Linked DNA regions of Homo sapiens: region 1 is linked to region 2. The links come from fine-mapping of genetic effects on gene expression. A gene starts in region 2. The other region holds a variant in brackets. All regions are shown on one strand. Distances are between the middles of the regions. Region 1 overlaps PTPN9 (protein tyrosine phosphatase non-receptor type 9). Region 2 holds the start of COMMD4 (COMM domain containing 4).

Evidence for each region. PIP is the estimated chance that this variant, and not a neighbour inherited with it, causes the effect. A credible set is the group of variants that fine-mapping cannot tell apart.
Region 1: its variant is the best candidate, but not a certain one, in a credible set for the expression of COMMD4 in monocytes (CEDAR, PIP 0.54).

Annotation. Positions count from the first base shown.
Region 1 is chr15:75,536,874-75,541,261 of GRCh38, forward strand. All of the region lies in intron 1 of PTPN9 (protein tyrosine phosphatase non-receptor type 9), which reads right to left. Among named protein-coding and RNA genes, the nearest start is that of PTPN9, 40 kb to the right of the region's middle. The variant T/A (reference allele first, on the strand shown) is at 2,223.
Region 2 is chr15:75,333,373-75,337,715 of GRCh38, forward strand. COMMD4 (COMM domain containing 4) reads left to right here and starts at 2,691. Exons shown (of 8, transcript NM_017828.5): 1 at 2,691-2,720. The coding sequence starts at 2,718. RefSeq lists enhancers at 2,525-2,574, 2,915-3,084.

The DNA.
Region 1 (4,388 bases), 200 kb after region 2:
AGACAGGGATCATATCTATTTTATTCACCTAGTTCCTAGCACTGTGCCTGGCACAAAGCACTTACTTAATAAATATCTATGATGAATGAATGAATTAATTATTGAAGTCTCAATATTATTAACATTTAGAGGGCAGACAGAAGATGAAGAACAAAGGAACTTTTACAATTTTCTTTTAGAAATACTAGTGATTGCAGGCCAGGCATGGTGGCTCACACCTGTAATCCCAGCACTTTGGGAGGCCAAGGCAGGCGGATCACCTGAGGTCAGGAATTCGAGACCAGCCTGACCAATATGGCAAAACTCCGTCTCTACTAAAAATACAAAACTTAGCTGGGCATGGTGGTGGGCGCCTGTAATCCCAACTACTCAGGAGGCTGAGGCAAGAGAATTGCTTGAATCCAGGAGGCTGAGGTTGCAGTGAGCCGAGATCATGCCATTGCACTCCAGCCTGGGTGACACAGTGAGACTCCGTCTCAAAAAAAAAAAAAAAAAAAAACTAGTGATTGCTGAAAATCAAATAAATGGTGATCTAAACAAAAACAAGAGGAATCGTCAAATATCTTCCCTAAAAAAAAAAAAAAAAAAAAAAAAAAAAGGCCAGGCTCGGTGGCTCACGCCTGTAATCCCAGCACTTTGGGAGGCTTAGGTGGGTGGACCATGAGGTTAAGAGATCAAGACCATCCTGGCCAACACGGTGAAACCCCCACCTCTATTAAAAATGCAAAAAACTTAGCTGGGCGTGGTGGTGCGCACCTGTAGTCCCAGCTACTCGGGAGGCTGAGGCAGGAGAATCACTTGAACTCAGGAGGCGGAGGTTGCAGTGAGCCGAGATGGTGCCACTGCACTCCAGCAGGGCAACAGAGGGAGACTCCATCTCAAAAAAAAAAAAAAAAAAAAAAAGGCCAGGCGTGGTGGCTCACACCTGTAATCCCAGCACTTTGGGAGGCCAAGGCAGGCGGATCACCTGAGGTCAGGCGTTCAAGACCAGCCTGGCCAACATAGTGAAACCCTGTCTCTTCTAAAAATACAAAAATTAGCTGTGTGTGGTGGTGCCTGCCTGTAATCCCAGCTACTCAGGAGGCTGAGGCAGGAGAATCACTTGAACCCAGGAGGCAGAGGTTGCAGTGAGCCAAGATTGTGCCACTGTACTCCAGCCTGGGAGAGAGAGCAAGACTTTGTCTCGAAACAAAACAAAACAAAACAAAACACACACACACACAAAGCTTCACAGTAAAGATAGCTCTCACATTACAGGCTTCTCCGAGGAATGTAAAGACTTGGTTTAACATCAGGAGATCTATCAAAGCAATTTTTATGTTAACAGGAAAGGAAAAAAAAGTATATAACCTTCTCAACAGATGCTGAAAATGCACTGCGTAAAATCCATCACACATAGGCCCCGTAATTTTTTTCTATTAAAGATGAGAAGGCCAGCAGGTACCTGCTATTACCACCACTATGTAACATTGCACTGAAGGTCATACCTAACAGAAGCCAAAAGATGCGTAACAACCTGATGCAAAAAGACAGGAATTTTAGGCCAGGTGTGGTGGCTCCAATCTATAATCCCAGCACTCTGGGAGGCCGAAGTGGGCAGACTGCTTGATCTCAGGAGTTCGTGACCAGCCTGAGGAACATGACAAAACCCCGTCTCTACAAAAAATACAAAAATTCGCCCAGCATGATGGCACACGCCTACAGTCCCACAAGTGGGAGGATCACTTAAGCCCGGGAGGCAGAGGCTGCAGTGAGCTGAAACTGTACCACTGCATGGCCCCCCAGCCTGGGTGACACAGCCAGACCCTGTCTCAAAAAAAAAAAGGAATGTTAAAGAAGAGAATAAAATTCAGAAACCACACAGTGTATATCTAAGTATACAGTATATGAAACAAGTAATATGACTATTAGTAAGCAAAAAGTATTATAGGAATTTAGATATGCACATAAATATTTGTAGGATACACAAAAAACTGGTAATAATGGTCACCTCTGGGGAGAGAAAATGAACTGGGGCTGGGTGTAATGCTTCACACCTGTAACCCCAACACTTTGTGAGGCTGAGGCAGGAGGATCACTTGAATCCAGTAGTTCCAGACCAGCCTAGGCAACAAAGCAAGACCCAGTCTCTATAAAAAAAATAAAAAAGAAAGAAAGAAAGAAAGAAAGAAAATGAACTGGGAAACAGCATTGGAAGATAACTATAAGCAACCTTTAAAAAA[T/A]TTTTTTTTGGCCGGGCGTGGTGGCTCACGCCTGTAATCTCAGGTGTTTCACCATTTTGGCCAGGATGGTCTTGATCTCTCGACCTCATGATCCGCCCGCCTTGGCCTCCCAAAGTGCTGGGATTATAGGCGTGAGCCACTGTGCCCGGCCAGTGATTTATCTTTAGTAAACAAATTACATTTACTATCTTCTCTCTGAAGGAAGTTGGTATTTAGAAGATTTTTTTTTTTTTTTTGAGATGGAGTCTCGCACTGCCACCCAGGCTGGAGTGCAATCGCACAATCTTGGCTCACTGCAACCTCTGCCTCCCAAGTTCAAGTGATTCTCCTGCCTCAGCCTCCCAAGAAGCTGGGATTACAGGCGTACCTGCCTACTTTTTGTGTGTGTTTTTAGTAGAGACGGGGTTTCACTACGTTGGCCAGACTGGTCTCGAACTCCTGACCTCATGATCCGCCCGCCTCAGCCTCCCAAAGTGCTGGGATTACAGGCATGAGCCACCGCGCCCAGCCTAGTAGAGAAGATTTAATTGGAGGACCACGAAGGTAGAAATGTTCACCCATTTGAATATGTGAACTTTTTTATTGTTGTTTTTTGAGATAGAATCTCCCTCTGTCACCCAGGCTGGAGTGCAGCGGTGTGATCTCGGCTCACTGCAACCTTGGCCTCCCAGGTTCAAGTGATTCTTCTGCCTCAGCCTCCTGAGTAGCTGGGATTACAGGCGCGCACCACCACGCCAGGCTAACTTTGTATTTTTAGTGGAGACGGGGTTTCACCATGTTGGCCAGGCTGGTCTCGAACTCCTGGCCTCAAGTAATCCGCCTCAAGCAACTCCCCTGACCTCCCAAAGTGCTGCGATTATAGGCAAGAGCCGCCACGTCTGGCCTGAATGTGTGAACTTCTAAATTATATGTCACGTTTTATTTATTAGGAAGTGTGAAGTATAGAATTCCTTATGGCTAAGACCTATAAAGGTATCATTAAAAAATTTAAAGACATAAAATACCCCTCAGTTTCTCTGCCTTTTTGAAGGAAAGCATCAGAAATAAAAAACAAAAGTGAAACTGACTTTTACAAAAGTTTAGTCCATTGAGATAGAGCAAATAAATAGGCACAATGAAAGAAAAGGGAATAGAGTCAACTAAGTTTGAGTGCACTGTAAATACTTTTTTAAAAATAATGTGTGGCCGGGCATGTTGGCTCACGCCTGTAATCCTAGCACTTTGGGAAGACAAGGCAGGTGGATCTCAAGAGTTCGAGACCAGCCTGGCCAACATGGCAAAACTCTGTCTCTACTAAAAATACAAAAATTAGCCAGACGTGGTGGCACATGCCTGTAATCCCAGCCATTCAGGAGGCTGAAGCAGGAGAATCGCTTAAACCCAGGAGGTGGAGGTTGCAGTGAGCTGAGATCGCACCAGCCTGGGTGACAGAGCAAGACTCTGTCTCTAAAAAAAAAAAAAAAAAAAGAAAGAAAGAAAGAAAGAAAGAAAAATGTGAATCAGGTCTGATTGGAAGCACTACTTCTGCTGCCTTCCTGTTTGTACTTTTCAGTTGCTGCAAGAATGATCCAGGCGGCTGCTAGGTGAGGTGACACATAATTCCAGCATTTTGGGAGGCTGAGGTGGGAGGATTCCTTGAGACCAGCATGGATAACATAGTGAGATCCTGTCTCTATTTAAAACAAAAAAAGGATGATCCAGGTGGGACGAGATGACTCATGCCCGTAATCCAAGCACTTTGGGAAGCTGAGGTGGGAGGATCGCTTGAGCCCAGGAGTTTGAGACCAGCCTGGGCAACACAGGGAAACCTCGTCTCTAAAAAAAAAATTAAAAATTAGCCAGGTGTGGTGGTGCACACCTGTAGTCCCAGGTACTCAGGAGGCTGAGGTAGGAGGATCACTTGAGCCTAGGAGGTCCAGGCTGCAGTGAGCTGTGATCACACCACTGCACTTCAGCCTGGGTAACAGTGAAACCCTGTCTCAAAAAATAAAAAAATAAAAAATAAAAAAAAAGAGACAGGATCTTGCTCTTGCCCAGGCTTGAGTGCAGTGGCATGATCATAGCTCAGTGTAACCTTGAAGTCCTAGGCTCAAATGATTCTCCTGCCCCAGCCTCCCTAGTAGCTGGAACTACAGGTGTGTGCCACCACATCTGGCTACTTTTTTA
Region 2 (4,343 bases):
CGGTGAAACCCCGTCTCTACTAAAAATATAAAAAAATTAGCCCGGCGTGGTGGCGGGCGCCTGTGGTCCCAGCTGCTCGGGAGGCTAAGGCAGGAGAATGGCGTGAACCCAGGAGGTGGAGGTTGCAGTGAGCCAAGATGGCGCCACTGCACTCCAGCCTGGGTGACAGAGCGAGACTCCATTTCAAAAAAAAAAAAGAAAATCATATTGGGAAATAAAACTGCCATCTTTGGGTGTTATCTTTTCCACTGGACAGAAACCCTAAGTTAACATATATACATATTCTCAAGAATATTCATAACATATTCTGTAGTATATTTCCCTACACTAGTGGTTTTCAAAGCATGGTCTCAAATGTCACCTGGGAATATAGACACGCAATGCTCAGGCCCCACCTCAGTCCTATTGAGTTAGAAACTCTGGTGTGAGGCCCAGCAGCCGGTTTCACAAGCCCTGCAGGTGATGATGATGCACTCTAATGTGTGAGAACCACGGCTCTAAATAGTCAAATCATCTTTTTTTTTTTTTTTTTTTTGAGACGGAGTCTCACACTGTTGCCCAAGCTGACTGAAATGCAGCGGTGCAATCTCGGCTCACTGCAGCCTCCACCTCCCGCGTTCAAGCGATTCTCATGCCTCAGCCTCCTGACTGGCTGGGATTACAGGCACCCACTACCACACCCTGCTAATTTTTTTTGTTTTTTTTCAGTAGAGACAGGTTTTGCCATGTTAGCCAGGCCACCGCTCTCGAACTCCTGACCTCAGGTGATCTGCCTGCCTCGGCCTCCCAAAGTGCTAGGATTACAGGCATGAGCCACCGTGCCCAGCCTTTATTTATTTATTTATTTATTTATTTATTTATTTTTATTTTATTTTATTTTTCTGAGATGGTCTCCTTCTGTTGCTCAGGATGGATGGAGTACAGTGGTGCCATCATGGTTCACTGCAGCCTCCACCTCCCAGGCTCAAGAGATCCTCTGACCTCAGCCTCTTAGGTAGCTGGGACAACACGTGTGCACCAGGACAAGCGGGTAATTTTTTGTAGAGACTGGGGTCTCCCTATGTTGCACAAGCTGGTCTAGAACTCCTGGGCTCAAGCGATCCACCGGCCTTGGCCTACCAAAGTGCTATGATTAAAGGTCTTAACATTCTTAAAAAATTTTTTTGACATGGTTTAGGATAGTCTAGTAACTTAACGTACTGTTGTTTTCAACAGGCTAGTGGTTATGATTTGTAAAAGAACTCTTCAGAAATGAGCTCAATTTTACCATGAATTGGGGACACTTTACATTTCTATTTTATAGTGCAGTTTAATTGTCATGGGCTCTGTCTTTTAAAAACCTGAAAGCCTGCAACAATAAAACCAGCTGCACCTGTTGCATGGGATAGGCATGGAATTGAGGAGAGAGCTCAAACTACAGTCAGCCCTCTGTATCCTGAGGTTCTGGATCCTTGGATTTAACCAACTGTGCATCGAAAATATTTGGAAAAAGTAAAACAATAAAAAAACACAGGTCGGGTGCAGTGGCGGGCGCCTGTAGTCCCAGCTACTCGGGAGGCTGAGGCAGGAGAATGGCGTGAACCCGGGTGGCAGAGCTGGCAGCGAGTGGAGATCGCGCCACTGCACTCCAGCCTGGGCAACAGAGCAAGACTCCGTCTCAAAAAAAAAAATTAAAAAACTTTATAACAGCTATTTACAAAGCATTTACGTTGTATTAGGTATTATAGTAATCTAGAGATGATTTAAAGTATACGGAAGGATGTGCACAGGTTATTTGCAAATACTATGCCATATTATATCAGGGACTTGAGTATCTGTGAATTTTGGTATCTCTGGGGTCCTGGAACCAACATCCTGAGGTTACCAAAGGACGACTGTATTCAATTTTGTCTCTGGTTATTAGTCTATTCTCAAATGTATTTTTCTTGTTGTTTTGTCTTTTTGTTTTTGCCTCTTCAAGTCAATGTCGGAAACTTAGTTGTTCTAGACTACCCATTAGCTCAGAGCTACCAGTAATCAGACTACCACTGCAACCTAAGCAACCGATTTTTCTTCCCCATCAGACTGGCAAAAATTAAGATAAGCATCTATTGATGTTGAAGCTGTAGGGAGTTTTCCTGAGCAAGTAATTATGACAGCCCTTTTTGCTAGGCACCTAGATGATTCATCAAAATGAAATAAAATACCCATGCACTTGAAGAAGTTATCTGGTTTATTTCCTTACCTGGGTGCTGGTTATGTGAGGTGTACAGTTGATGAAAACTTATTAAGCTTTATAATAGGTACAATTTTCTGTATGTGTAGTAGACGTCAATAGTTTTTAAAATGTCTTTTGCCACAGCCCGCAGCTGTGAATAATGCTATTCGCTTAACAGTGGAAAACGTGTCAATGACCTGAAACACCCTGGCTCCCGGGATCCTACCCCCTTAAGTTAAACAAATGAAATAACTTCCACTGTCTTTCCTAATGTCTTAATTCGGTCCTCAGTTAAACTGGCGGTTGGCGCCAGTTTTTTCCAGGGAAGGATTCTGGGAGACGGAGGAGGAGACGCCAGCATTTCGCCCCCTGCACCTCCAGCGGGCTGCGGTCCGCTCCCGGCCTCACTCGAGCAGGCCCCGCCCTCCCAGAGGCAGTTAGTCCAAGTCACGTGATCGTCGACTCAGCTGACCCTGCGGGACCGGAAAAAGAAATTCCCGGGCCCTGGCTTCTTGGCGCGATGGTGAGGCACTAGGGGCGAAGCGAGGCTTGGGCTGCTGGAGCGGGAATGAGGGGGCGCCAAGTGGCTCCGGAAACTGGGGGAGGTTGTACTGGCCTCTCCGCAAACACAGTGTGTGCGGGCGTGAGGGCTGTGAGTCTGGTAGGGAAAAGTCCACCACTCTCCCGCTCCCGAGACGGGGGCGGGGGTACGGGGCGGGTAAGACAGAGCAGGCCGGCCGGCTTAGAGTCCCGGTGCTTCCCTGGCGGAAGGAAGGGCCCCTGCCTCCCGGGGCAGGAACTAGGGCTTGTCTGGAGCTGGGAGTCCTTTCAGGTCTTCCCCATCCCCAAGAGGACCTCCCAAGGATACCCCCTTCCCCAGCCCTGCCGTGGGGCTTGTACAAGAAGGTGCTTAGAATCAGGCTCACTCTTCCACACTGTTAGGAAGCCCCTCCGCTCTTTCCAGAGCCAGAAAGTAGTAGTTTTGGGGTTGAGACTTATCCATCCATCCATCCAATCCATCCATCCGTACGTTCTAAGCGCCTGGTCTATACCATGAAGTGTGCTAGGCACTGGGAGGACTTGAGCTGCCAAGGGAAGGGGAAATCGGAGGCTTGAATTGGAGTCATAGCTAAGGCTCCAGGGGCAGAGACCTAACTGCGCCTTGTGTGTAGTGCTAAGGGGGCTTCCTAAGGATGCCATCAAACTTAAAGGCGGATGGATGGCAGGAGCTGGCTGGCTGAAGTACAGTTTGTGTACCAGGGGTAGGGAGGCAAGGGTGGGAGACGTGTGTCTTCAGACAGGGAACAGCATGTGCAGAGACTTCAGGTTAGAGAGAGTATGGCTCCCCAGGAATGGATGCATTTCCCATAGCTGGGAGAGTATCATCTGCAGGTTAGGGAAAGATGAGGCTGGACAAGTAGAGAACAAATCTTCCTGGCTCTTGGATCACCACAATCAAGATAATGAACGTATCCACTGGCCTCCATAATTTCCTTGTGTGAGGGGCTATTTTAAGAAGTATAATCAAGAAAGGCTGTTCTGGCTGGGTGCGGTGGCTCATGCCTGTAATCCTAGCACTTTGGGAGAGTGAAGAGGGTGGATCACCTGAGGTCAGGAGTTCGAGACCAGCATGGCCATGGCACTCCAGCCTGGGCAACAGAGGGAGACTCTGTCTTATTTTTTTATTTTTTAAAAAAAGAAGGGCTGGTCTGATGTGTCACTTAAAGGATAGCAAGCCACTGGCCAGGCGCCGTGGCTCACGCCTGTAATCCCAGCACTTTGGGAGGCTGAGGGGGACGGATCACTTGAGGTCAGGAGTTCAAGACCAGCCTGGCTAACATAGTGAAACTCTGTCTCTACTAAAAATACAAAATTAGCCGAGTGTGGTGGCACATGCCTGTAATCCCAGCTACTTGGGAGGCTGAGGCAGGAGAATCACTTGAACCTGGGAAGCGGAGGTTGCAGTGAGCCGAGGTCGCGCCATTGCACTCCAGCCTGGGGAACAAGAGTGAAACTGTCTCAAAAAAAAAAAAAAAAGGATAGCAAGCCACACAGAGAGTGCAGCAGGCATGGAGGCGGGAGCAAGGCTGGTGTGCCCCAGCAGCAGCAGGGAAGCTGGAGTGGCTGGAGTTGTGTGGGTATGGGG